Homo sapiens: one gene and its partners. The protein of the gene in region 1 purifies or fractionates together with the protein of each later gene. This does not show direct contact. Each region holds a gene or a part of one and is shown in the gene's direction. Other genes may lie near its edges. The genes, in order: ZXDB, ARB2A, FBLN5 and NTSR1.

What was found.
Region 2: the proteins of ZXDB (region 1) and ARB2A purify together in Homo sapiens (affinity purification with mass spectrometry; one large-scale study listed by BioGRID and IntAct). This does not show direct contact.
Region 3: the proteins of ZXDB (region 1) and FBLN5 purify together in Homo sapiens (affinity purification with mass spectrometry; one large-scale study listed by BioGRID and IntAct). This does not show direct contact.
Region 4: the proteins of ZXDB (region 1) and NTSR1 purify together in Homo sapiens (affinity purification with mass spectrometry; one large-scale study listed by BioGRID and IntAct). This does not show direct contact.

The regions. Positions count from the first base shown.
Region 1 is NC_000023.11:57,590,582-57,594,861, forward strand, and holds the start of ZXDB (zinc finger X-linked protein ZXDB), read left to right. Parts: upstream 1-1,429; 5' UTR 1,430-1,467; coding exon 1,468-3,879; 3' UTR 3,880-4,280. UniProt on the Homo sapiens protein: Cooperates with CIITA to promote transcription of MHC class I and MHC class II genes.
Region 2 is NC_000005.10:93,622,111-93,625,678, reverse strand, and holds part of ARB2A (cotranscriptional regulator ARB2A isoform 1 precursor), read left to right. Parts: intron 1-3,568. UniProt on the Homo sapiens protein: Plays a role in the regulation of alternative splicing, by interacting with AGO2 and CHD7. Seems to be required for stabilizing protein-protein interactions at the chromatin-spliceosome interface. May have hydrolase activity.
Region 3 is NC_000014.9:91,871,781-91,874,740, reverse strand, and holds part of FBLN5 (fibulin-5 isoform 1 precursor), read left to right. Parts: intron 1-1,065; coding exon of another isoform or gene 1,066-1,244; intron 1,245-2,960. UniProt on the Homo sapiens protein: Essential for elastic fiber formation, is involved in the assembly of continuous elastin (ELN) polymer and promotes the interaction of microfibrils and ELN. Stabilizes and organizes elastic fibers in the skin, lung and vasculature.
Region 4 is NC_000020.11:62,711,825-62,715,392, forward strand, and holds part of NTSR1 (neurotensin receptor type 1), read left to right. Parts: intron 1-3,568. UniProt on the Homo sapiens protein: G-protein coupled receptor for the tridecapeptide neurotensin (NTS). Signaling is effected via G proteins that activate a phosphatidylinositol-calcium second messenger system.

The DNA.
Region 1 (4,280 bases):
ACAGGTGTCTGCTTTTGTAAAATAATCTAAACGATACAAATATGTTTTATGCACTCTTCTATACCTCAGATTTGAAAAATGCTTCCACCAGAAAAAGTAATAGAAAGAAAAGTATGTGGAGTAGACATTTTGATGAGGTTCAAATAGTTATGGATGAATAGCTTGATTTTCAAGAGACCAAGTGTCCACTGTCATTAAAAGAGGGCGAGAGAGCTGGGAGTATTTAAACAACAGGTTACACCCCGCTCCCCCACCACCACCAATCTAGTCATTACTCTAAGCTTTCTTATCTCAGATATTTCACCCTATATTTGTGTCAATTCCCAACTCAGTCGTAACGGACAAAATGAAGGATTGTCATCATCATTAATAAGATCATTAGGCACCACAGGCCCAGCAAGCCTGGGCCACCACACTTAAATGTGAACAGGTACACCAGGTTGATTGGACAAGATCGTCTGTGCCTTTTACTTGGCAGAATCCATTGCAGTGACTCAGGATTTAACCTAAACACATTTAACTGAAACTCCTGCCCAGAGACCTCCACGTGCTGGAGAAGGCAGAGTAAACTGAGGAATGAATGCCCTCATTGTGCTGTGAGAGCAGACATGAAATTTATCACAGTACAACCGATGGTGGAAGGGCAAAAGTTGGTTTAGGTTGTGCACTGTATAGGGAGAAGCCAGGAGAAGGTTGGGTTTTTTCCAGATTTCAGTGTAAATTGTTTCATCCTCCAGACTTTGAATTTCTAGGCTGAAGAGTGCTAACCTGTTTTGGCCGCATCTCTCACTCATTCTAATGTCTGTATCAGCAAGACAAAATTTGAACTATGCGGCAAATTGTACCGAAGACTTTGCTCAAGATAATTGTGAATATGGAAGTTGTCCCGCGGGGAGGTGGGAAGGGGAAGGACATTTTCAGCAGAACTGCCAGCGCTATGGTGGTTTAATGCTGACACAGAGACAGTTTTTTCTCTCAGGAATTGTCTTTCATCCATCAGTCCAGCCAGCCAGCCAGCCAGCAAATTTTAACACACAGAAAGTACGAAGCAACATATCTAACACTGGGAGGGGCTGGGGTGTGTTTATTTGGGTATATACAATGAGTCATGGATTAAAATTGCTTCCAGCGGATAGATACCTAGGTGTTCCACAGCATTACTGAACAAGCTGTCGTCATTTCCCCATTACCTCAGAAGACCCCCTTAATTACTTACTTATATTAACTGTAGAACGTATTTATGCATACCAGGCTCTACCTCTGGGCTTTCTATTCTGTTCCAGAGACCCAGTACCAGAATATTTAAATCACTGTGGCGTTAAATACGTTTTAATATCTGATAGGGCCAGTTTCTGCGCATTGCACATTTTTTTTTCCCCTTTCAGGAACGTGTTCAGGCCCGCGGCAGGGGGCGGGATCGCGCCTCCTCCTCGGCTCTGGTTCCAGCCGAGCCTCTCGGACGCAGAGATGGAAATCCCGAAGCTGCTCCCGGCTCGCGGGACACTACAGGGCGGCGGCGGCGGCGGTATCCCCGCGGGTGGCGGCCGAGTCCACCGAGGCCCTGACTCGCCGGCTGGCCAGGTCCCCACGCGCCGCCTCCTGCTGCTCCGGGGCCCCCAAGATGGCGGGCCCGGGCGGCGGCGCGAGGAGGCCAGCACGGCATCACGGGGCCCTGGCCCAAGCCTGTTGGCGCCGAGGACCGATCAACCTAGCGGCGGCGGCGGCGGCGGCGGCGACGACTTCTTCCTGGTGCTGCTTGACCCGGTGGGTGGCGACGTGGAGACCGCGGGCTCCGGTCAGGCCGCAGGGCCTGTGTTGAGGGAGGAGGCCGAGGAGGGCCCGGGGCTCCAGGGGGGCGAGAGCGGCGCGAATCCCGCGGGGCCCACTGCGCTAGGCCCCCGCTGCCTGTCCGCGGTTCCCACTCCGGCCCCGATCTCCGCCCCCGGCCCCGCCGCGGCCTTCGCGGGCACAGTCACTATCCACAACCAGGACCTGCTGTTGCGCTTTGAGAACGGCGTCCTCACCCTGGCCACGCCCCCACCACACGCCTGGGAGCCAGGGGCCGCTCCTGCCCAGCAGCCCGGGTGTCTGATCGCCCCGCAAGCTGGGTTCCCGCATGCCGCGCACCCGGGTGACTGCCCAGAGCTGCCGCCAGACCTCCTGCTAGCTGAGCCGGCCGAACCCGCGCCAGCTCCGGCGCCTGAGGAGGAGGCGGAGGGCCCGGCCGCCGCCCTGGGCCCCCGCGGACCGCTGGGCTCCGGCCCAGGCGTGGTGCTGTACTTGTGCCCCGAGGCGCAGTGCGGGCAAACCTTCGCCAAGAAGCACCAGCTGAAGGTGCACCTGCTGACGCACAGCAGCAGCCAGGGCCAGAGGCCCTTCAAATGCCCCCTGGGTGGCTGCGGCTGGACCTTCACCACCTCTTACAAGCTCAAGAGGCACCTGCAGTCGCACGACAAACTGCGGCCCTTTGGCTGCCCGGCAGAGGGCTGTGGCAAGAGCTTCACCACAGTGTACAACCTCAAGGCGCACATGAAGGGCCATGAGCAGGAGAACTCATTCAAATGCGAGGTGTGCGAGGAGAGCTTCCCCACGCAGGCCAAACTCAGCGCCCACCAGCGCAGCCACTTCGAACCGGAGAGGCCTTACCAGTGCGCGTTTTCTGGCTGCAAGAAGACATTTATCACAGTGAGTGCTCTGTTTTCCCATAACCGCGCCCATTTCAGGGAACAGGAACTGTTTTCCTGCTCTTTTCCTGGCTGCAGCAAACAATATGACAAGGCTTGTAGGCTGAAAATTCACCTGCGGAGTCACACCGGCGAGAGACCTTTCCTTTGTGACTTTGATGGCTGTGGCTGGAACTTCACTAGCATGTCCAAACTCTTAAGGCACAAAAGAAAGCACGACGATGACCGGAGGTTCATGTGCCCTGTGGAAGGCTGTGGGAAATCTTTCACGAGGGCGGAACATCTGAAAGGCCACAGCATAACCCACCTGGGCACAAAGCCTTTCGTGTGTCCTGTGGCAGGCTGCTGTGCCAGGTTCTCTGCTCGCAGTAGCCTCTACATTCACTCCAAGAAACACCTGCAGGATGTGGACACTTGGAAAAGCCGTTGCCCGATCTCCTCTTGTAATAAACTCTTCACATCCAAGCACAGCATGAAGACGCACATGGTTAAAAGGCATAAGGTGGGCCAGGATCTCTTAGCTCAGCTAGAAGCAGCAAATTCTCTCACACCCAGCAGTGAACTTACCAGCCAGAGACAGAATGATCTCAGTGATGCAGAGATAGTGTCTCTCTTCTCTGATGTACCTGACAGTACTTCTGCTGCATTGCTGGACACAGCATTGGTGAACTCTGGAATCTTGACTATTGATGTGGCTTCTGTGAGCTCGACTCTGGCAGGGCACCTCCCTGCTAATAATAATAATTCCGTAGGGCAGGCTGTGGACCCTCCGTCCTTGATGGCCACCAGCGACCCTCCTCAAAGTCTGGATACCTCTCTCTTTTTTGGAACGGCGGCCACTGGTTTTCAGCAGAGCTCCTTAAATATGGATGAGGTCTCAAGTGTAAGTGTGGGGCCATTGGGATCTCTGGACTCTTTGGCCATGAAAAACTCCAGTCCAGAGCCTCAGGCTTTGACACCCAGCAGTAAGCTAACAGTGGACACAGATGCTCTGACTCCTTCGAGCACCCTTTGTGAAAACAGTGTCTCAGAACTACTGACACCAACCAAAGCGGAGTGGAACGTACATCCTGACTCTGACTTCTTTGGACAGGAGGGAGAAACCCAGTTTGGATTCCCCAATGCAGCAGGAAACCATGGTTCTCAGAAAGAAACAGATCTTATCACTGTGACTGGCAGCTCATTTTTGGTATGAACCAACTCTATTCATTCCTCATCATGTGGCTTACTTTTATTACAGTCAATTTTGAGGATATTCTGGACTAAATATTTAAGTGCAGTCATTTCTTTTTGGTTTGCAAAAAGAGCACAGCCCTGGACTACAAGTTTGGAGATTTAAATTCTGATCTTGAGTTTGGAACTGACAAGTTGTGTGACCCTGAGCAAGTCAGTTAACCTATCTGAGCCTTAATTTCCTTATTTATAAATTGAGGTGGTTTGAATAGATTGCTTTTAAGGTCTTTCTGCTCTGTGATTCCTTGATAATACATTTCTTTCCTTGAAAAATATGAGGACGTTTTTCAGTGATGTGGCATGCGTTTTTTTTTAACTGCCCCCCCAGCCCTGACATGTTCTTTTTTTGGCAAACATACATAA
Region 2 (3,568 bases), on another chromosome or scaffold:
TTCTTAGAGTTTCTAATCTTTTTCACCACTTTTGCTATTTTCACTCCTTTAAAATTTGCTACAGTTCATTTTTTAAAACAAGTGATAAGTCAAGGATATTCAGGGTAGTATTTTCATTGGACGATCCCCTGCCTTTTAGTCACTTCACAATGAATAACATCATTGACAAATGGCATTTGTGGAAGAAACATAAGAAAAATGAAAAATAGGTATTTTCTGCTCTGTACAAGGATAAGAGAGATAGCTAGAGTAGGGTTCAGATTATTGGAAGAATTAATCTCTAATATAGTAAGAAATAATTATTCATTTTTATTTAAGCTGACCTTTGATTAGCTACTATTATAACAAATATTATGCCGTGCTTTTACTGTCCTGAAATAAATTCTACAGATAACATAATCTACCTACTTACGAGATTGTTAATCTTTGTAATGCTCTAGTTAACATGTAGAAGGAATAAAAGTAATTCATAATAAAATAATATGGATTTCAATATTTAAAGTGCTCAGGCAAACCTACATGAGAAGACATAATAAAGTAGTCAGATACTTGGTCCTATGCATGGAATCATCATGAATTTGACAGCTACAGATGCGGGCTGATACAGGTATGCTTATTGGCACCTCAAGTACCATGGGCATGGTGCCATCAGTTATGATATTTTTTTCATAGGGTAAACCACTCTTGGTAAGACTCTGAAAAACATAAAATGCATGACCCTTTCGATTTACACGGTAGTTGTATTCCTGGAAAATTCAGTATATATTAAAATCATGCAAAAAGTATTTTAAGATTATCTGTAAAACATATTTAAATTCTAATCCATATAATTATAAACAGGTTTTCAACTACATGAATAGCTGCTGAACATTTGAAAATCATGTGGGATGCAGAACAATTCTGTACTGCCTTGCAAATTACAGGATATCCACTATCCCTGTCCTTCTCCCAATAAATACCAATAACACCTTCCAATCATCTTGACCATCGAAAATATCCCTGCAAATTTCCAAAATGCCTCCAGAGGCCATTATCATCTCCATTAAGAACCACTGATTGAAACTGAGCAAAGGTATTTTTTTGTAATGAAGTGCTGTGATCCTTTACATTTTACTTTTATACTGAATTGATGTTATAGACTAGGAAACTGAATTCACTCCAAAGGTGAATTATCCAGTTAGACCAAGCCTGCCACTCCTAAATGATACCAAAATCATTCCTTGAGAACTTGGCAGATATTTAATGTGGAAAAACATTTTACTCCTTATATTTTGTGAAACTCTCTAAATTAGGAAAATTATTGGTTTGAAAAGTAGAGACTTCTGATAAGGGTAAAGTGGTGGTAGTGAAAAGACTAGACCTTAACCATAAAACCATGTTTTTCCCCTTCAAATGACAAGGTTAGTGCTAAATAAACTAGTTTCCCTGTGATTTCTACATCATTGCATTTTATTAATAAATGGCTGCTTTTTTGATTGACCTAAACTTCTACCTTTTATATCCTTTTATGAACAAATAATGTAATGGTCTAGTGTTTCTGTACTGATGTAATAAAAAGCATCCCACTTAATGTCCCCTAAAGTGATGTATTTTTTAAGTACTAGAAACCTGCTCTCAAAAGTTTCCATTCACTGAACATTGTCATGGATAGAGTTTCATATTCATCTGTAAATATTTTCACTGAACTTTGGACCTAAATTTTTGAAAATGGTCTCCAAACATATTCTTGAAATGTATATATGCAGTCCAAGTTAGACATGTAATTATTCAACTTCTGAATGGTATTCTAAAAATCATTTAAAATCTACTTCCAAAAATTTAGAAAAGACATTTTTATATTACATATTCATGTTATCATTCCTTAGTTTAGGGAGAATTCTCTCCCTTCCACCCCATTCTCTGTAATTCAGTTGCTAACCTACCTTATTACCTTTACTCCTAGCAATTTCCCTTCGTCTGACAGAAGCACACATTCTCATTATTTATACTCTTAAATTACAAGAGTAAATGTTGAGAGCCAGTACAAGTATTCAGTTATCTCAGGGACTCTGGTCTTTTCAGTCCAGGACTAATCAAGCAGAGAGTCATCAAAAGCTAAAACTAAAAAGCTTTTGTAGTGATTTTATCACCAGGGAAATCTGTTCATCCTTCAGAAGGATTGTTACCCGTAAAGAAGAAATAAAGGAGTTAAAATTGCTTCAGACCGTTGACTCCTTAGGTCCCTCTAGATTCATAGATTGAATTGGTTTCAAGGGGTGGGAGGAATTATGAGGGGAATTCCCTGAGAAAGCTTACAAATTGATCATAGCCTTAGTAACACTAGTAGGTGTAAGTGTGATCACTATGGAGGAAATGCCAAATGTGGCTGTAAGCTTGGGAAATGGTTACGAAAAGAGACAATTAACACCTTTTTTTTTTTTTTTGGCTTATTGTATTTGGGGGTGGGTGTTGCCACGTAGTATGCATCTGAGAATGGTCTTTCAAAATGAATTACAATTGATTTTAAAATGTCCTACCATTATAAGTGCAACTGTGTAGTTATTACTGAAGTGAAACTAGGGTTGCAAACACTATAGAATAGAGACACACATTTGATAACCCTATCCAGAAACTGGTCCTCCTAGATCTACCCGCAAATATCATTTAAAGCAGGTATGTCTGAGCATATGTAGAACTGCTCAGTTAGGTTTGGAAAATATAAATGCCTCCAAATTCAAAAGAATCCTTTAAGATTGTCATTTGAATAAATCAGTAAAAATATAATAATATCTAGATGTTATGTATTATAACACCTATTGATGCAAGCAGGCATATATATATAATTTTCCCCCAAGAATTCTATGAAGAATTGTCAAAATCCACCTAGCACTTTAGGATTTAACAAGATAAACCTACACTCATCCCTCCTTCCTATTGAGTAACAATGAATTTTGCCCAAAATGAGTAAGCAAATAAAATGACCTCATTTTTAGTCTGAGTTGGGGGATATGACTTTAATACTGGGTCTTAGTTTCAAATTCAAGTTCATGAGGCCAGTCTGCAGAGGAAAGGAGGATAGAGAGAATCCTTGGGAGGGCACTGATAAAGAGAGAGGGGTTCTCTAGTAGGGCCAGCTCCCACAGCTAAGTCAGGCACAGACTGTAGCTTTCTGCTCTCTGGCCGACAGCAGCCATAGCATCCTTATTGTTGTAACTCCTAGATTGTGATACTGTCACAAAACTGTTGCTAGGCAACAAATGTGGTTACCAGGTCTCAGCGAATAGCTGAAGGGGAAAGCAAAGTGTTGCACCATTGTAGAGTAACCATAGCAATGACCTACTATTACAGACTAAAGAATTATCATTAACAATGTTAAAGTATCAGACTGAGGCCCTGAATCCGGAGACTTCCAAGCGGTATCTCTCTGCATAATTGAGTGATCTAGGAAGAGATTTCAACTGTTTAAAAGCTATTCACTCATTATTTCTGTGGAAGTCTGTAATTATTTTAATTTTTAATTTTAAAAAGTGCTCATTTATGAAGCCACTGGTAAAATGCTACATAAGCCATCACAGGGAGTCAAAAATAG
Region 3 (2,960 bases), on another chromosome or scaffold:
ACCCCAATAACTCCACACACAGCATCAGCAGCAAGCCGTGTATAGTGCCTGTATGTGCCAGACACTATTCTAAGTGCTTTCTATACAGTAACCCTTTAATCTTCACAAGAATCCTATGATATAGGATGGTTTTATCGTCCAGATTTTACAGATGAGAGCACTGAGGCACAGAGCTAAGCAACCTGCCCGACTAGTCTCACAACTAATAAGCACCAGGGCAGGATTTGAACCTAAGCAGCCTGGCACCAAAAATCTGTGCTGTTATACTTTTCTTCAGAATGGGGAGGTATGCTTTACCTACTCTTCCAGCTTTGGGGTCTCAGATGAAATGGAGATCACAAGAAAAGTCTAACATCCAGTTACAATAGAAAGTATTCCAGAAATAGCAGTTATGATTGTATAGATACTGTTGTGGCCACTGCTACTGTTGCTGCTACTGCTGCAAGGAGGCTGGGAGCTGCTGGGCCATGGAGAGCTTGGGAATGCTACCCAGGGGACTGGAGCATCGTGTGGGAGGTGGGGCTGGATGGCCATCCAGGCTCTCACACCCTGAGATTCATTGATTTGATTATAACCACATGGGAGGAGCTTCATCTCACCCCGCAGGCAAACCACACACACACACTTGCATGCACACATGCACACACTTATGCCCACATGCGTACGTGTACACACACACACAAGCCCATTCATAAGCCTTATTGGCTGCCTGTCTCTCACTGAGCCCTAGAAAGAGGACTGATGATTGGCTTTGGCCAGGTGGCTTGGGGGTCATAATTAGGGCCAGAAGAAGGAGCAAGGTCATGGGGTTCAGACTGTGCCAAAGTGCACTTACTCCATGACACACGTGGATCAAGTGACAGGGCCCATGGAAGCTGGCCTGCTACAGCGTGGCTGCTTGCCACAGGTCAGACCATGCCATCCCACAAGTTGATTAGAATAAACCTGAGTGTGTTTGGGATCAGGGCCAAGAAGACACACAGCTGGTGGGCTGTTGGCAGCCGACTCCCAGCGTGGTCAAGTCCACTGGCGTTCAGTCATTCGTGTGCATTCTTCCGTTACCAGCGTGCATTCAGCACCACTGCATATGAGGCTTCAAGTCAGGCACTGAGCGTTGAGAAACAAACAGGATGTGGTCTCTGCCCTGGAGGAACCCACACACACCTTAGCGGAGAGGGGGAAAACAACCTAGCAAACACAACACAAAGTGGCGATTCTCAAGTCAAGTCAAGACCCATGGGATGGTGAGTAAATGGAGAGGTACAGAGACCTTATCAGAGAGTGTAGTGGTTAGAAGCATGATTTTTGGAGCCATAAAGTCTAGTACCATGCAGTAGTTTGGTGGCCTTATGTAGTATCCCTAACCTACTTAGAGCATAGGGTTGTGAAGATTAATTAAGAGGTGTAGGAAAGGTTGTAGCCAGATGCCTGGCATCATAACCACCACCGTCATCACTGTCGCCACCATCCTCCTCCTCCTCATCTTTTCGCACCACCAAGCCTACTAATGCCCACGGGCTCTCAGGGGTTTATTTCATTAATGCCCTGGCTCTGCCCTAAAAGCCGAATGTGGAGGTGGCTGTCCTCAGCTCTTGTGGCAGGTACTTGAGCTCTTCCAGGTGCTTGTGGGTAGGGTGGACCCAGGTGGAGGCCGGACTCACCAGCTTCTGCAGTTACTTCCAAATGGGAGAGTCTAGGATTTCAAATGGGATAGTTGAGGATTCTTTCGTACTCAGGAGACATTTACCAGGAGAGCCCAAAGGAACAACTTGGAAGTTTGCACTTGCCCCCTTCTCCCTTCCAGACCTTGGGCTCTGCAGATCTCCCTCTGGAGGGCTGTCCCTAGCTCAGGGTTCTCAACTCTTGGTCTTTGTTCACGCAGTGAAAGCTGGTGAGATATTTGTATATGTAAAGGCTGCAGGCATTTCCTTGTGTGGCTTTACCCTCTGAAGCCCTGGCCCAGGGCTCAGGTTTCGTAAGGGCTGACAAGGAAGTCCAAGAAATCTGCGTGAGGAGGTGCCAATAACGTGGATGCTGACGGGAACAGGAGGAACCAGTGCCAAGAGGAAATTGTGTGGCTGTCAGGCTGCCGATAGCCTCATGGATAGGGGAGGTCCCAGCGCCTGGCCTGCACCTGTCTGCCAGCCCCACCCTTGTCTTACTTGTGGTGGCTCTTGGGGATGTTCAGAACTTTATGGGGCGCCCTCCTTTTATGGAGACAGATAAAACATCTAGTGTAGCTTTAAACCAGCTAGGTTCCTTTATTTTGCAGAGACTGTTGCTTGCAGCTTCTGGGCACAGGGCTGGGCTCTGCAGTGTATGGGAAGTGATTGTCCAGCCCATCCCTTTTCTTCTTCACACTGTTTCCTCTAACAGTGCCAATATCTGTCCCTTGCACTGACCGCGAGCATCTCTCATTAGGTGGGTGCTAGGAAGAAGTGAAACACACATCAGCCTCTTCTGATACCTGCTGTGCAGTGAAAAAAGCCTGGGGCTTGGGGTCAGAAATACCTGAATGGAAGCCCTTGGTTCTGCCCAAGACTAGCTGGGTAACCCTAAGCAATTATTTAACCTCATGGGACCTCAGTTTGCTTACTTATAAAACGGGGAAGTAATGAGTCATACCTTTCATACAGCACTTAGACAAGGACAGCCAGGGCCCCCCCACCTGGGTCCTGTGCTTTTAGATCAATATTTCTCAATACTTAATGTGCACACAAAGCCCTGGGGATTGTGTTAAGCCACAGATTCTGGCTCAGTAGATCCTAGCCCTGAGATTCTGCATTTATAAGAAGCTCCCTGGTGATGCCCATGCTGCTGGTCCAGGGACCACACTTTGAGTGGCAAGGCCTTTCAGGGTTTTATGAGAATTTTTTTTTTTTTTTTTAGCTGGAGTCTCGCCGTTGTCCAGGGTGGAGTATAGTGGTGCGATCTCTATTCACTGCAACCTCTGCCCCCCA
Region 4 (3,568 bases), on another chromosome or scaffold:
TTGCTCAGAGGCTGCGAGGCAGATTTGGCCAAGTCACGCTACGGCCGGCCACAGGCACTCGTCCAATCGCAGAGGCCTGTGACGTATCAACCGTAGGACAGCGGCCCCACGCCCTGCAGACGCCATGCTGGCCGAGCGTTGCTGAAGGCACCCTTGGAGAACGTAGTTTCCATTTTTCTTTAAAGGGCTCAGCTGCGTGCCTGGGAGCAGCTGATTACAAGGGTGCTCCTCCATCCGATGCTGATGACCTGGGGCTTTCCAGGGCCCCGATGCCAGCTGCTCTGTGTGCTTGAAAAGAACATTCCTCGTAGGAGAGGCCTTGGCTTCCCCTGACCCCTGCCCCGCCATTTGCCATTTTATGAAAGGTTTCCCCGGAATTAGGGGGTTTACGGTCCCCACGTGGGCTTCTGGGCCATTGGCAGATCTGGGCAAACATCCACGGTTTTCAGATGGTGATGTCTGGCTGAAGAGGGGCTGGATACCCTGAGCTAAGTGTCTCCCTCTCAGTGACCATGTTTGGAAGTGTTGGGGCAGTGGCCAATCAAATGGCCCCTCTTTCCAAAACAGGGGTCCTTTCCTGCCCCAGCGTCTCCTACGAAATTTTGGCCTGGGCACTTGCAAACAGAAATTGTGTTTAGAAATGAGGTGGTTCAGTGATAACACTTTGGAGCAACTTACAATAATCCTCCCTGAAGCCAGCTGGGCATTTTCCTAGTGTGTAGCTGGGACTGGGAGTTGATGGTGGAGTGGGCAGGGCTCTCAGGTCAGCAGACAGGACCTGGTGCCCAGGACCCTCCCAAAGGCCCCAGACCTGGCCCTGGTGCCAGCAGGGTGACTGGGAGGAGGAGCTGGGGGCTCAGGGACCTACGGGTGCCCCTGGGTTCCCCTGGACTGTCCTACCCATCCTCTAACCCACCCGCACACGTGGCCCCACACGGGCAGATGGCCCTTGCTTCTTGGATGGTCCCCCATGGCCCAGGCCCAACCTCCAGCTCAGCTTTGACCTCGGCTGTGACAGGGTCCCAGTGGCACACGATCTGTGTGGCAGGGCTCAGGGCTGATGGCCCAGATGGTGGGTCATCAGAGTCCCATGCTTATCTGTCATCTGTCCATGGCGTGTATACTGAACGTGTGCACACATGTGTGTGTCCAGGGGCCCACAGTGGCAGGGGCCTGGGACTTCAGGTGTCCGATTCAAATCAGATGAGGTGGCTGCAGCCTTTGAAACAGTTTTAGAGACCCGCCCCTGACTATGGCCACACACGAAAGCAAACCCTCCCAGCCTCACAGGCACGAGTCCATTAGACCCTCCTGAGCAGCCGTGAGGACTCCTTTCATCATTGCCATTTTCTGCACCAAGGGAGTCCTGCTCCTGCAGGCTCAGCCTCCCTGCCTCCTCCTTGTTTTTTCTGAAAGCCTTCTTCATATTGAGTACAAACAGCAGTGCTCTTCGCTGGGTTAGACCCCAACTCAGAGGGCACCTGCTCCCTCCCAGGGGCAGACAGGGGCCTCAATTTGTGCAGGAGGCGCTGGTGTCCTACAACCCCTGCTCCAGAGGCGTCCAGGAGCAGACAGATCACAGGGCGACTTGGCAAACACCCCAGCCGTTCAGGGCTGGCAGAATTCCGGGAAAGGAGAGGCGGCTGAGACAGGGAAGGAGACAGGTTCCAGTGAAATCTGGCCATGGATTATTTCAGGGCTCCTGTCCCGTGCCCCAGGCTGTGCCCAGCAACCTCCACAGGCAGCATCCTTGTTCTTAGGAAGGATACAGAGGTGTTTAGAGTGTGGAGTCTGCAACTTATTCTCAAATCATTCAGAAAGAAAGGTGTGGCCAAATGGAAGGAGAGCAAGCAGACAGTGAATCAAGGGAGGAGACTGCTTGCGGGTCATGCGGCATTGGGCTGCAGCCCTGCCACAGGCAGCTGAGTGTCCTGGGCATTCTTCCTGCAACTGTTCTGCAGTAGGAACTTTTTCAAGTTAGAAAGTTGCAGAAGGCCGGGCGTGGTGGCTCACACCTGTAATCCCAGCACTTTGGGAGGCTGAGGCAGGCGGATCACCTGAGGTCAGGAGTTCAAGCCCAGCCTGGCCAACATGGCGAAAACCCATCTCTACTAAAAATACAAAAATTAGCTGGGCGTCGTGAAGGATGCCTGTAATCCCAGCTACTTGGGAGGCTGAGGCAGGAGAATCGCTTGAGCTTGGGAGGCGGAGGTTGCAGTGAGCCAAGATCACACCACTGCACTCCAGCCTGGGTGACAACTGTCTCAAAGAAAAAAAAAGTTGCAGAAGAAGTTCTTCAAGGGGTCCTTAGGAACAGCCTGCTCCACTCTGACCTCCCGTGAGGACGGGAAGGGGACCCACGCCACGCAGCTGTGGGCAGCTCTGGCTCTGGCCGTAGCGGCCACAGTGTCCTCACCTGCAGCGCAGGGCATAGAGGGCTGTTGGTGTGGGGCCAAGAGTCACACACTTCCTCCAGTCTGAGCCCATGACCCTTTAGAGGAAAGGAATGGAGTATTTTTCCTGCCTTTTCTATTCAAACGGTACTTTAGAATAACCCAAGAGTAGATAAAAGGCAGTGTCTCAGCCCAGAAATGTTCATCAATAAGTGAAGAAGGAGCAGGATGGTCAGAATACCACCCATCAGGTGCAATCCTCATAAATCAATGGATGTAGGCATGGATTCTTGACAGCTGCTGGGGTCACGAAGGGGAGAGAGTTAGGTGTGAGGTGAGCCCTGGTGTGCACACAGCCTCGTGGCATCCTTGGAGCAAAGCCATTGAATCTGAATCTCATGGAGCCCCTGATCCAACACACAGGACACACCAGGGACAGAGGAACAGGGACAAATGTACCATTAGGATGCAGCCAGCAAAACCCAGACCACAAGAAACAGCTCCAAATAAACAACTCGTTCTGTTCTACAAACAGTGAGGGAATCGGAGACGGTGGCCTGGTTTCTTAGCAAAGACTCGGACAAGTCAACCTGTCGCAGAAAGCCGGCACCAAAGCTGATCATTCTTCCTGCCAAGAAACAGCAAAAAAGCCTAGGTAGTGAATAGCTACAAATTCTTGTTGTCCAGAGCTGTTGTGGGTATGGTTTTCAAAATGGTCCTGCTCTCTTAGAGGTACATGCGGAAATGTTTACAGACAAAATGATGCAATGTCTCAGATTTACTGAAGCGTGATCTGGGGGAAGGGGCTGTGGGAGGGCTACAGAGGAGACAAGATTGGTCTTAAGTCTGTAATCATGGAAAGTGAGTGTTGATGACATTTTTGGCATGTTTGAAAAATTTAGTAATTAAAAGTTTTCAAAAGGTTAAGGTGCTATATGTTGGAAATAAAGAATTTGGCGTATGAAATCACCGTTCAGATGGTGACTCTGAGGCTGTGGGGGGTGAGAGGGCAGGACAGGGAGGTGACCTTGGCCTTGTTCCAGGCACCAGACCTGCCTGTTGGAGCCAGGTGGGAGACGGCAGGGTGAGGACGTGCAGACATGCGGGTCCACCTCTGTACCCCGTAACCCCGTTTCCCAGATGAAGCAGAGGGCAGAGCCACCTGTGCACATCAC